Linked DNA regions of Homo sapiens. The protein of the gene in region 4 interacts with the protein of the main gene of each other region in a pairwise test. Each region holds a gene or a part of one and is shown on either strand. Other genes may lie near its edges.

Region 1 (3,868 bases), on a different chromosome or scaffold from region 4:
ACAAACTTTAGTTCAAAATTTTGATGTTTTAAATATACTTATTTAGTGAGTGGCTATACCAGTGAAGGGTAACATTAATGAAAGTAAGAATGAAGTTTTAAGCATGAAACAGTAACTATAAAAACAAACTGCTACATGGAGACTCACTAATATAGCTTTATATTGTTTTCATTTTGATAGTGGGTTTAAAATCTGTGTTCAGAACTATAGAAATATCCAGAGTCAAAAAATATTTATCTCAAGGTCTCTTTCTAAAAGAATGAATTTCCAAAATAGTTTTATTATATAAATTTTTTTAAAGCCACTTTTCCTGCAAAAAGGTAAGAACAAGATAAAACCGCTTGCTTTCCTACCCCCCTCTAGTTAACCAGTACATATTTAAGCACCTATGATGTGGACAGCACTAAATTTAGCAACAAATTATCAGTGTAATATTAGCTGCTTTAAAAATAACTATTATTTTACATTAATTCTTTCAAAAATAAATGTACCTAGTATAAGCCAATCAATCTCATTTTATCATTTAGTTACTGACTGAGATTTCAATCTTCTTTAAATGTTCTAAAACTTATCAGGCTCTATCTGCATTGAATAATAAAAGCAAATCAAATCAAAAGTCTTGATTATATTCAGCTAGCATGAACAATGAAAGTGAGTCAAACGTTCTCCTTCAAACTGAGAAACTGGATTACATCTTTTGGTATGAGTTCAATTAATTTCAAGTATTCATCACTGGTAGAATTAAATTTCTTCCTTTCTCAGGTAAGAATAATCATTAAACTCAAGTGCTTAAAGAATAAAGGCAATAATAGATAAATATATAATTCTATATTTGGATTGCAAGAATTAAAGTAAAAGCAAAACACATACACACACAACCAGAGTCGCCAGTCATTTATCTTCATATAATCAGACAATAATTTTGATGATAGAATACTTGGATTAAATTACCTTTTTTTTTCTGTGCTTTAAGATAGAAATTCAAAGCACTAAAATGCCAACTAAGTAAGCACGGGTATGAATTGTGAGTAAAATATGAATACTGATATTTTTGTAATAGTTTGGGTCTCATCAAGAAGAGGCCTATTTCAGGAGCATAATAAATACATATTGCATAAGACTTTGGTACTGATGGTGCTGGGTTCAGAACTCAGGGAAGATTTTGCAAACAGAAAATATTTTTCACAGAAAAAGTGCAAGGAAAGCAGATAGGGATAAACAGTGTTAAAACTTTCTTTCTTAATGATTCCTCCGATTAGCCTAAATAGTCCTCTATCAACATGCATTTTTAGAAGAAGAAACTCATCTCTTAAGGAGGTCTATAATCTGTCTTAAGCCTTATTATAAAATAAAAAAGCAATAATTTGATAAAATGCTAAAATAGAAATGACAGTGATATTTGAAAAAATCTTAAAATGTGGGAAGTATTCTCCATGACTAAACTAATTAAATATTCCCAAAGTGGTAAAATATTTCATCATTAATAGGTGATTGCATGTCTGAAATGAAAAATGTTGTTACTTCTGAATAGCCTGAGAAAAAGAACATGCCAACAATTTAGAAATTAAACCCTACACAAGTGTTGACAGCCATAGTAAGAAAAGAGTGCATACAACAAATGTTAAGAGCTATTTACAGATTTAAAAGCAGTTCCCATTCTTGCAGCAAAATTGGTGACATAAAACCATTTGTACCAGATTATCATAGTCATCTTTCACAGAGAAAAAATACCAATGCAGTTAAGAGATTTCTCAAAAGATTCACCATTATATTGATCATTTTTATTTAAACCTTTAAGATTTTTATCCATGCTTGTAAATAAGGCAAAAGAAAGGCAGAAAAGACATCTTGGGATGAAAACTAAATTTTAATTTTAGTTTCTCTCTTTTTTTTTTTTTTGAGACAGAGTCTTGCTCTGTCGCCCAGGCTGGAGTGCAGTGGCACAATATCAGCTCACTGCAACCTCCGTCTCTCGGGTTCAAGCGATTCTCCTGCCTCAGCCTCCCGAGTAGCTGGGATTACAGGCGCCAACCACCACGCCCAGCTACTTTTTTTTGTATTTTTAGTAGAGATGAGGTTTCACCATGTTGGCCAAGCTAGTCTCGAACTCCTGACCTCAGTGATCGACCCACCTTGGCCTCCCAAAGTGCTGGGATTACAGGCATGAGCCACCGTGCCCGGCCTTCTCTTTTCTAAGGTTTAAAAAAAATGACACTGAAATCCTGAATAACAATTATAATTAAGAAAGGTACACAAGAACATGCCAAGAATTCATCCTATCAGCAGATATGCTGGGTAGTAATGAAGTTTGCTTATCGGTAGCACTCTTTTAATCAAGTTTTCCATTCTGAAGACTATTTTTGGCTTTCTCTTGTCTGATGTGAGAGATGACTTTGATGCAACCTTTTGAAATTTTGATCATCCACATGACATTCATCACATCCAAAACAACACAACTAATGACCCAGGATAACTGGATTAAAACTCCAAGCCTTATGTAGGGTTCTGTTCCATACACGGAATACATGAAGCCATAATGAGGAAGCATTGAGGCAATCCGCACGATGAAGAATACTACTGTCATGAGTATTCCATTGATAACGATAGCTTTAGAAAACTTGGGATACTTCAGAGCTTCAAAGAACCACCTGAAAAATGAATTAAAGAAACATCACATTTATAGTGCATCTCTGAGGATTAACCATTTTTATTTTAGTTTTTAAATTTTAAAATTCAGTGAAGGAGGAGCAAAGGGCCTAGAATAGCATACGCAATGCTGAAAAAGAACAAAGTTGGAGGACTCACACTACCCATTTCCAAGACTTAACTATAAAGCGACAGTAATCAAGTCAGCATGGTGTTAGTGAAAGATCAATAAACCAATGGAAGAGAAAAGAGAGCTCAGAAATAGACCCACACAAATATACTCAACTGATTTGTGACAAAAGCATAAAGGTAATTCAGTGGAGAAAAAAAGTCTTTTCAACAAGGTGTGCAAAATTGTATATCAACATCGAGAAAAATGAAGTTAAGCAGAGATCTCACACCTTACACAAAAATTAACTCAAAATGGATCATAGACCTAAATGTAAAATGCAAAACTATAAAACTTCCATAAGAAAAAAGGAAAAAAACCTGTATGATCTTGCATCTGGTGGTGCTATTTTAGATACAACACCAAAAGTGTCATCCATGGAAGAAAAAGTTAGTTAAGTTGGACTTCGTTAAAATTAAAACTTGCTCTGCGAAAGACACTGTTAAAGAAAAGACAACCACACACTAGGAAAAAATATTTAAAATATACATGTATGGTAAAGTACATGTATACAAAGTACACAAAGAATTCTTAAAAGTCAACAATAAGAAAACAACCCAATTAAAACACTGGTAAAAGAGCATAACAAAAACCTCATCAGAAAATATATATAGATGAAAACTAAGCATATAAAAAGATGTTCACTATTGTCATTAGGAAGTGCAAATTGCAGTGGCTCACGCCTGTAATCCCAGCACTTTGGGAGGCTGAGGCAGGTGGATCACCTGAGGTCAGGGGTTTGAAACCAGCCTGGCCAGCCAGGCGCAGTGGCTCACCCCTGTAATCCCAGCACTTTGGGAGGCTGAGGAGCGTGGATCATCAGGTCAGGAGTTCAAGACCAGCCTGGCCAAGATAGTGAAACCCCGTCTCTACTAAAAATACAAAAATTAGCCAGGCATGGCGGCGGGCACCTGTAATCCCAGCTACTCAGAGGCTGAGGCAGAGAATTGCTTGAACCCAGGAGGCAGAGGTTGCAATGAGCCGAGATCACACCACCACACTCCAGCCTGGGCGACAGAGCAAGATTCCATCTCAAAAAAGAAAAGAAAAGAA
Region 2 (2,967 bases), on a different chromosome or scaffold from region 4:
TAGGGAACAGGAAAAGCAGATTCATGTTATCCATCTCATGCTTACTGGGTAAGGATATGGTTATTGTCCCCTTCCCAGCTCCTCCTCTGAATCTATTCTTCATTCACCAATCAGGATGACTTTTAAAAACAGAAATCAGGCCATGTCATTCCTTTCCTTCAAGACTCCCAACAGCTTGATCCTAAAGTGCCTCAAACTCATCACACTTACACTTAAATCCACACTTCCTACACCAGCCTACAAAGCCCTTCACAATCTGGGCCCGGTCTCTCCAGGCTCACCTGGGACCACATTCTCTCTTGTTTGGTATGCTCTATGCCCAATGCCAGTCTTCTCTCTGTTCTTAGGACAAACCAAGTTCCTTCCCACCTTATGGTCTTTGCCTCACCTGCTTTATACTTAGATCCCAACAGCCTCTCTCTGAGAGGCCTTCCTTGACCACCCAATGTGAACTAGTCATCCCTTTGCATTCTAGAATACATTATCTTAATTCTTTGCATAGCACTCATCAAATTATATTTCCTTGTTTATTTGCTTAGTTGCCTCACCCTGCTTCTAAAACTATAAGCTCTTTGAGAGAGAATCTTACCATTACTTCATCCTCAGTGCCTAGAAAAATACCTGGTACACAGTGAGTACTCAACAAATATTTGTGTCTTAGACATGAATCTGATGGCACAAGTACTAACTGTACCCTTCCCAAAAACTAAGGGTTTGAATTCTGGGCCCCTCAGGACAAACAGGAGGAAGGACATCATTGCCCTTTGCAAATTACAATATAAATGCCTCTCTGGAGGAACTTCTTGATTATACTGACATTGATTTTTTTTTTTAAGTCTGCTATATGGGAATGCAATATTGTATTTATTCTATTCATTAACAATACTTGAACATTTACAATATTCATTGAACATAATCTAAGAGAAGGTCAACTTACATTTTTTACTTCTCTATTAATAAGAGAGATGGTCAAATTAATTTATGGTCAAAATTATAATGGCAAAAACTTATAAATAAATACGTGCTTGGTGTTACTATGGTTACACACAGTTCAGTTTTTGGTGTAAAGTTCTTTGGCTGCAAGAAAGAACATTTGGTTTACTTCACTAATAGAAATATCTCTTAAGGCTGGAATGGCCTCCTCTTGGTATTTCTTCTGCTGTTGATTTTTTGCATAGTTATCTGTAAGAAAAGACCAAAAAGCTCTGTTTACCTAAGCAATTTCTTCTACAGTCTCTGTGTCTGATGGAGACCCACCACATAGTTTACTAGGCTGACGTTTGGATAGTGACAAACATCATGTTTAACATAATTAGATGATTACTTAAATCCTCTCTTTAGAAGAAATGTCCCAATTAAAATAAAAACATCCCTGTCTCTACTAAAAACACAAACACACAAAATTAGCCTGGTGAGGTGGCGGGCGCCTGTAGTCCCACCTACTCGGGAGGCTGAGGCAGGAGAACAGCGTGAACCCAGGGGGCGGAGCCTGCAGTGAGCCGAGATTGCGCCATTGCACTCCAGCCTGGGTGACAGAGCGAGACTCCATCTCAAAAATAAAAAATAAAAAATAAATAAATAAATAAATAAAAATAAAAAAATAAAAACATCAGTAAAGTACTTTTTTCATCTCTAACTTGGAAAGAAATCAATATTTTAATCAACCATACAATGATGATTAAAGTCTCATTTGCACATTTCTCACGGGAACAGAATTATATCCAGGCCTTGAAAATGTATTTAAATCAACATGGCAAAACTATTAAATCATTTGGTATAAATATTCATGCAATCTTAACAATTTCCCCTCTTTGCACAAATTACCTATTTGCTGCCAATTCCAATCAAGAATGCATGGAATGCAGTGTATTAGAAAGACACTTAAAAATAATAGAATTGATTTTCAAAATACATTGTAGAGGCTAATATATAAAGGTTTTGAAAAGTTGAAAAATCATACCAGGGAACTTAAAAAATACTTTACTTTCTAGAATTTAAGCAAGCTCAGGAGTCTGATTTATTTTCATCTTTAGACTTGAAAGAACTTTAAAAAAATAAAACCAGACGAACGTGTTGTGGCTCTTTTATCCACTTAATTGGAATAAGGAGTACACAATGATCCTGAGGAGGATACACACCCCCAAAGTCCTTTTTCTGAACAAGGTCTGCATGTACTATTTACTATCCCTTGATCAACGGTGTCTGTTCAGGATAAGCTTCTCTCAGGCAAAGTTAATGGGAACATATTATAGACACATATAGCATATACTTGTGGTTTTTATGGGAACATACACCTGCTAACCAGTGCTATAATTAATTATAATTTATTTCCTCCATGAATATAGCTAGTGTGTATTCATCAGAACTTAATTCCTTCATGCAAATATTTCCTTTTATATAAGTTTGTATTTATTTCTCTTAGTAGCTTCTTTTTACTGTCCGTGTGTGTGTGTGTGTGTGTGTGTGTGTGTGTGTGTGTGTGTGTTTTCTTTTAGGATGGAGTTTCACTCTTGTCACCCAAGCTGGAGTACAGTGGTGGGATCTTGGCTCACTGCAACCTCTGCCTCCTGGGTTCAAGTGATTCTCCTGCCTCAGCCTCCCAAGTAGCTGGGATTACAGACGCGCACCACCAACATGGGTTTTGCAGCCTGTTCTTTGTTGCTTTTCTGGGTAAAAGTGCTAATACTCCACTCTTTCATTGCCCCAGCACTTTCCTTTTATATAAAGTTACCTGTGATTGTATGGATGGAGTCGAGTGGAGAGGTACTCATCATGTTAATCCCAAACAAGAGCACGTAGCCAATTACTATAGCAATAAGGAGGTAGACAGGTAATGCAACTGCCCAATATCTGCCAAAGAGAATATTAAAGTACATAATAGACACTTTAAAAAAGTTGTAATTCTCAAGAGTCGGTCACAAAGCCAACATGTTTTTTAAATTTAAATTTTATAAAGTAATATGTGTA
Region 3 (2,698 bases), on a different chromosome or scaffold from region 4:
TGGCCCAGCCCAGTCCAGCCCAACTCGGCTAGGCCGCAGAGCACTGGGATGCCCCAAATGGGCAGGGAGCCAGGGTACTCATGGTCTCTGACAGGGAGGCATTCCAGGCCCTCATGACTCCATCCTGGCCAGGCTGCTCACCAGCCCCTCTGCCCCACTCCGGGCCCTGTCTGAGCAGCCAGGGCCCACAGACCCTCAGCTCTTACCGATCATAATGGAAACGTATGCCTTGGAAATTGCCAGCGTACTCCTGGAGATGGGCATCCCCATGGCCTGATTCTCTCAGCATTCTGGGCTTTGGCAGCTGGGACCCCTGAAGAAAGGAATGGTCAGTAAAGTAGCCTGCCCAACCCCACATGAGTGGCTTCTCCAGTTTGCCCAGAGCCAATGGTGCACCCCATGGGGAATCACATGGTGCCTGGTCTCTGGAATCAAGGGCTGGCAGCTTCAGGCCGCTAGGAAAGCTTGGGAACCCCACACAGGCTGCTGGCCACCACCCCACCCACACCATGCTCCTCGGTAGCTCTTGGTCATCCAGGCAGGCTGTGGCAAAAGAGGAGCAGTAACAGGGGTCCCTGTCCTCTGCAAGAACTTTCACATGCAGGTATTAGCTGAGAGGCTGAGCAACCTACTGAAGGAGAACGTAAAACCTTGATTGGCAGCCCAGGCCATGGAGGCCTGGCGAGATGCCTTTACTTTCCAAGGATGCGTGGTAAATGTCAGGGCTAAGGCTAGAACCCTGGCTACTGGGAAACCAGCAACTCCTCTGGGTAAGCTCAGCCAGCCATCCCTGTGGCTTTCATTTTTATCCATCTGCCAACAACTCCCTAGCATGTACATCTCTGGCCCAGAGCCCTTGGGCCAGGGCCATCTGATGCCTTTGAAGCATCAGTGGGGGATAGAGGAAAAGAGCGTGGCTTTTGGTGCCAGACCTGCCTGGGCTCAAATCATAGTTCTAGGTTTCCAGTTCAAGATGAAATGTTTCACAAGCTGCTTATTTAACACACACCACATGCCAGGGACCATGCCATCCTCTAAGCCCTTACCAATACTAAGTGACTGATTCCTCGTCACAGCCCTGTGAAACGGTATCATTATCATCCCGTTTTGAAAGTAGGGGAAACTGAAACACAGAGAGGTTAATTACCTTGTCCAAGTCACACAGCTAGGAAGTAGCAGAGCAGTAATTTGAACCCAGGACATTTCAGTCCAGAGGTTATACTCTCAGCCATTACACTACGATGTCCCTCATATTTAACACTCCTTCCTGTTAAGGCTCCACTAATTGCCAGTGAAGACAGTAAAACAGTACAAACCCATAAGACAGAAGACAACACAAGAGGCATCAGCTAATGAAAGAATTCAATAAAATTCTGGAATCTAGGAAGTGTCCATGGAGGAACTAGGCCTCATTGTGGATGGGAAGCAGATGGGACTCAGCTGACAAAGGAGGCCCCCGCCAGCAGCATCCAGAGAGGACTTAGACCTGCAAGGACAATGGCGGCATATCACAAGAAAGGAGGGGAGGGAGGAAAACAGGGCCTTTAACTAATGATCTATGTAGGAAGCAGTCATCCACACTTCTCACTCCTGGTTGGCAGCCAGGCACTTACCGCCAAGCCAAAACCTGAACCAAATGAATAAGAAAGCTGGGGTGAAAGTGACACAAAATAAAACCGTCTTCATTCTGGCAGGGTTCAGGGTGCCCCACATGACAGCCAGTTCCTTACCCGCTCACCCTGCTGAAGTAGAGCCTGTCATTTGAGAGGCCTGACTGAGGCGCACAGAGTACTGGGTTAGCTCTTCTATTTGCCTCATTCTTACAAAAAAATAGACAACCAAGGCTCACCTGTCACCTGAGAAATATCTGCAGCCCTCTTCTGTTCCGAAGTAACAACATCAAACTGAAGGTGGATCAATTTCTGTGTAAAGGATTTTCATAGGAACTTTGCCACTGCACTCTGTTTGTTGCAATAAGGCATAACTAATCTTTCTCAAGAGGAGCACACAGATATTGGTGCAACTTTTTTATGAACCGTAGTTCATGGTCACAATATTTTATTTTCTTAAGATACTTCAAAAATTGCATTAAAAAGATAATGGGTATTAGGGAGACCCCATGACTATAATTTGATCAATGATGTCTCTTAGAAAAATTTTCAGACCATTGCTTGATTTTCCTATAAATTGGAATCAGAAGGACAAAAAAAATTTTGAGAGATTTGAAGGCAAAAAATAAGGATGAATGGCTGATGGCTGGAATTTGTTTGTTTGTTTCAGATAACATAGTTTGTTGTTAACCCACCAAGTCCCAACTTCTCTCTGTTAATCATTTCAAAAAATGTTATTTTAATTTCCATGTAATTTTAAAGGCACACTGCTTTTTTCCAAGTCAGCAGGATAGCATTATTAACTTTTCTCACCCTTGCATATTATGGTTCTCCTAGAGGCAGTTCCATTAACTGTTTTATTCAAAAATAAAGGAATGAATGAATTAATAAATAAATAGAATTAGTAAATTAGATTTCCTAATTCTAAATTTCTAAATTTAATTTATAAATTCAATATAATGTCTATATTTTCAAACAGTCTACCTCTAGCCCTTGTAGTCAACTTTAATTAAACCAGAGATTATATCTCCCCTAGTCTCAGGGACATTAGTGGTTTGCAGGAGCCTGACCTCCTGGAGCAACTTGAT
Region 4 (4,192 bases):
CTAATACTCTGAGGCCTTTTTTATCTGGTTCAGAAGGCTCAGAGGTGTAGAATGCCAGAGCTGGAGGGAACTTTAGGGACCGTGTAGCCCAGCCCCCACTCCAGCAAATAAACTGAGGTCTAGAGAGGGGCGATGATTTGCCCCAGAGCACAAATGCTGAGTGGAGGCTGGAACCCACGTCTGTAGATTCTCACACATCCGCTTCTTCTGCCTGGAGCTGCCCCCACTGAGAGGGTGGTACCTTGAGGCCCTGAGACAGTGTCACTCAGAATTAAAAAATAATAAATGCTGTCTGTCAAGGTGACATTGTTTTTTATTCTGAGTGACACTGTCTCAGGGCCTTTGGCTACTTTGGGATCATCACAGCTGACCCGGGGAGGTAGGGACGGCTGGGTGGGGAAAGCAGAGTGGCCGGTGGCCACAGGGGCCAATGGGGCAGCACAGCCAGGGGAAGGATGGGCGTCTTGGATTGTCGGGTGGAAGACTGGAGGTGATGTTGTGCAATGTGTCTCATCCACAGAGAAAGTGAACAACTTCCCACCATTGCCCAAATTCATCCCGCTGAAGCCATGTTTCTACCAAGACTTCGAGGCAGATATTCCTCCCCAGCATGTCAGCATGACCAAGCGCCTCTACTACCTCTGGATGTGTGAGTGCCATGGGATGGGGGTGGGCCAGGGTGGCTGGAGGAGGCAGGAAGACTGGGCGTGCTGGGCAGCGGGGTGGGGTGCCCACAGGCCTGACTGTCCTTCAGTCCCACTTGTGGCATATGCATGGACCATAAGTCTTCCCCTGCCAGGCTCCCAGAGGCTTCTTCCATGGGCCACCTCCCCGACTGGGCCTCAGTTTCCCTCAACCTCCCCCATCTAGGCCTCTCTTCCCTTCCTTCCCCTCCACCCTCCTTTCACAGAGCATCTGGACAGGGGTCCCTCTCTGCAGTGTAATCCCTGTCTTCTTGCTTCCCCTTTCCCTTCCACTGGAGTAACTTTCCAGGGAACCTCTGGGGACTGTCAGGACCTCAGGATTCTGGATTTGGAGAGGAATCCTTCCCTCAAAGCCTTATTTGTCTTGCTTTCTCTGGAAGATTGCTCAAAGAGAGGAGGATTCAGCTGGGAGTTGGGAGCTGTGGGATCAAGTTTGCCTGGTCACTGTGCTTGCCAAGCAGCAGGTTCCTCATTTGTAGGAAGAAAGTATTGGCTTGGCGATTGCTGTGGTTCCATGCAGCTCTGTGTTGGGTGGTCTATACCTGTAAGAGTCTAATGTCAGGCACAGTGGTTCACACCTGTGATCCCGGCACTTTGGGAGGCTGAGCCAGGAGGATCACTTGAGGTAAGGAGTTTAAGACCAGCCTAGGCAACACAGCAAGACCCCTGTCTCTACAGAAAATAAAAAAATTAGGCCTGTGTGGTGGCTCACACTTGTAGTCCCAGCTATTCAGGAGGCCAAGGCAGGAGGATCCAATGAGCCTAGGAGTTTGAGACCAGTATGGGCAACATAGCAATACCCCATCTCTTTAAAAAAACTAGCTGGGAATAGTGGCACATGCCTGTAGTCCTAGCTACTCAGGGGACTAAGGTGGGAGGATCACTTGAGCCCAGGAGTTCAAGGCTGCAGTGAGCTATGATCATGCTACTGCACTCCACCCTGGGTGACAGAGTAAGAGCCTGCCTCTAAAAAAATAATTAAATAATCTAGAATTCTTTATTTAGAAAACCTTAGCATCAATGTTCTAAGGTTTTAAGGCTGAGAGTGTAAAGGCCTCATTTCTGGTGATCTGTAGCAGGGGGTGGGAAAGGTGTCTTCTTGGGGGGATGGGACTTGGCTGTGCTGAGGCTAGTTAGAAGGTACCTCTTAGGCATGTGAGGGGGAGGCAAGCTGGCTATCCTGTGCTGGGTGTGAGCCCCAGGATCCCAAGATACCCGCAATGTAACTGCAGTTGGGTTCTGCTATATGTGACACTGCCCTGAGTGAGGCCTGCACTTAGCTGCCTACCTGGGCAGATGCTTGCATGTGCCGACAAGGTGGTAAAATATACTGTCTTTGCAGCAGGTCCCTCATGGCATGGTAGGAAGAGGATGGGGCAGACAGACTCAGTTTCAAGGCCTGGCTTGGCCTTTGAGTGAAGAAGGGATCTCCCACCATGTAACCTGAGAGAAGGGGGGATGGGACAGGTGTGGGTAAGTCTGTAGATGTTGGGAAGCAAATGAAGAAGTTACCTCTGATGGCTTCCATTTTTTCCATCAAATATGATGTAGTGTGGAGAGTGGGCTCACAACGAGGCCATGTTTGTCGACGGATAGTGAGGACACTCTCCAAAGAAACCCGGCCCCTAAGATTTCTGGGCCACACACAAGGTTCATTTGACATTGGCTGATGTGAATTTACAGTCTTCCTCATGGGGTCCCCTTTTTTCTTAGCAACATTCAGCTCAGGTACAGATGAGAATTATGTTCATCTAGGGTGAGTGTGGCCAGAAGGCAGGGCAGGGGAGGGAATAAGAAAATGAGTAATGAATTATGGAATCTAAGCTGGATAAGGAGAAGAGTGAAGACAGAAAGAAGCTGATGGCTAGAGAGAGAGAGGGGCTGAGCTCATGGGTATCCATTCCAGAGAGGAAGCAGAATAATTGCAGCAGAGGTGTTTGAGCAAGGGAGCTGGGGCAGGTTGGACTGGGGAGAGATGTGAACCAATATAATAGGTTAGTGTCTTTTCTATATAAAGAGCAAATAAAATCAGTTTTAACACCAAGCCTCCAGGAGATTTTGGGGCAATGAACAGGGATAGAGGAAATACAGCTGAAATGTACAGGAAGAAATGCCCACCCATGAGGGGCCCTGAGATGGGTGACACGGTGGTCAGGCCAGGCTTGTAGGTCACTGTGTCTGACCTGGGCTCTGGGAACTCAACTTCTGGGAACATCTCATCCAGAAGCTGGATTTAAGGGCTATAAATATCTCCTTAAGTCCTCACTAGGCACCCGCAGGTGCTTTACTCCCAAGGAAATGTATATAACCCTTGAGGTGCTTAAGGGTTCTATTCAGAAGACAGGACCACAGATGCCTGGCTGTTTGAGGCCACGGTTGAGCCCTCCTTCCTTTGTTTATTCAGCAGGTCTTTGTGGACTTAGCTTTGTTTTCAAGGAAGGGAGTGCCCTGATGTTAGATAATGATGTGCTGCACAGACCCGCATGTGTGTTAGTACCAGCATCACTTTTATCTGTAAATCTTTGAGGTCCCTGCTGGCCGTGACTCAGTGACACTGTGCCTCCTAGTTCAGCTAGATGAGGTGGGGACAGAGGGGGGGGGGCCTGGGTCCTGTTCTTGGGGAACTTTTAGTCTGGTTGATGGGCTGGGATTTATATCTGGGGAACCTTGAGAGCAGCCCAGGTCTGTAGAAGGTCAGAGGGATGGGAGATGATGAGGTTGCAGTAGCAAAGGAAGACTTCTTCAAGGAGCTGGCATGAGTGTTATCTAAGAAATAGATTAGATAGCTGGGCACTGTGACTCACACCTATAATCCGGCACTGTGGGAGGCCAAGGCGGGTGGATCACCTGAGGTCAGGAGTTCGAGACCAGCCTGGCCAACTTGGCGAAAAACCATCTCTGCTAAAAATACAAAAATTAGCTGGGCGTGATGGCAGGCACCTGTAATCCCAGCTACTCAGGAGGCTGAAGCAGGAGAATCGCTTGAACCTGAGAAGTGGAGGTTGCAGTGAGCTGAGATCGCGCCACTGCACTCCAGCCTGGGCGACAGAGTGAAATTCCATCTCAAAAAAAAAAAAAAAAAAAAAGAAATAGATTAGATAAAGACTGAGATTCCAGCCGCCAATGCCTGCCCCATTTAAGTGCAAGGTAGATGGCACAATGGCTAGAAGAGATGTTTCCACAAGGCCTTTTATTTTTCCCTTTCCATGCCCATATCTCGAAAGAGAAAGTGTAAGGTCGGTTTCCCATGTCTTGGGCTTGGTGATTGCTGTGAGTCTGGGAGGGTCAGGGGCTGAAGCCATTCTTGACAAGGACAAGAGCATTTCTACCACCCTGAGGCTTTGGGGCCCTTCAAAGGGGCTTGCTGGGCAGAAGCTCTGGGTTCTGGAGGCTGTGCTCTCCAGATTTCTCAGGAGTGGGTGCTGGGGTTGAGGGGTGGGGGTTGGTTCGAGCTCCCAGCTTGCGTTCTTACAGTCTTTACTCCTCTG

The links. The genes of interacting proteins can lie anywhere in the genome.
Region 1: the proteins of SCAMP5 (region 4) and TLCD4 interact in binary tests that used the Homo sapiens proteins (3 or more experiments, as listed by UniProt).
Region 2: the proteins of SCAMP5 (region 4) and PIGP interact in binary tests that used the Homo sapiens proteins (3 or more experiments, as listed by UniProt).
Region 3: the proteins of SCAMP5 (region 4) and FATE1 interact in binary tests that used the Homo sapiens proteins (3 or more experiments, as listed by UniProt).

The regions. Positions count from the first base shown.
Region 1 is NC_000001.11:95,190,330-95,194,197, reverse strand, and holds part of TLCD4 (TLC domain-containing protein 4), read right to left. Parts: intron 2,649-3,868; coding exon 2,330-2,648; 3' UTR 1-2,329.
Region 2 is NC_000021.9:37,064,531-37,067,497, forward strand, and holds the end of PIGP (phosphatidylinositol N-acetylglucosaminyltransferase subunit P), read right to left. Parts: intron 2,851-2,967; coding exon 2,732-2,850; intron 1,183-2,731; coding exon 1,052-1,182; 3' UTR 844-1,051; downstream 1-843. UniProt on the Homo sapiens protein: Part of the glycosylphosphatidylinositol-N-acetylglucosaminyltransferase (GPI-GnT) complex that catalyzes the transfer of N-acetylglucosamine from UDP-N-acetylglucosamine to phosphatidylinositol and participates in the first step of GPI biosynthesis.
Region 3 is NC_000023.11:151,719,010-151,721,707, reverse strand, and holds part of FATE1 (fetal and adult testis-expressed transcript protein), read right to left. Parts: intron 314-2,698; coding exon 207-313; intron 1-206. UniProt on the Homo sapiens protein: Involved in the regulation of endoplasmic reticulum (ER)-mitochondria coupling. Negatively regulates the ER-mitochondria distance and Ca(2+) transfer from ER to mitochondria possibly implicating it in the regulation of apoptosis.
Region 4 is NC_000015.10:75,012,157-75,016,348, forward strand, and holds part of SCAMP5 (secretory carrier-associated membrane protein 5), read left to right. Parts: intron 1-520; coding exon 521-649; intron 650-4,192. UniProt on the Homo sapiens protein: Required for the calcium-dependent exocytosis of signal sequence-containing cytokines such as CCL5. Probably acts in cooperation with the SNARE machinery.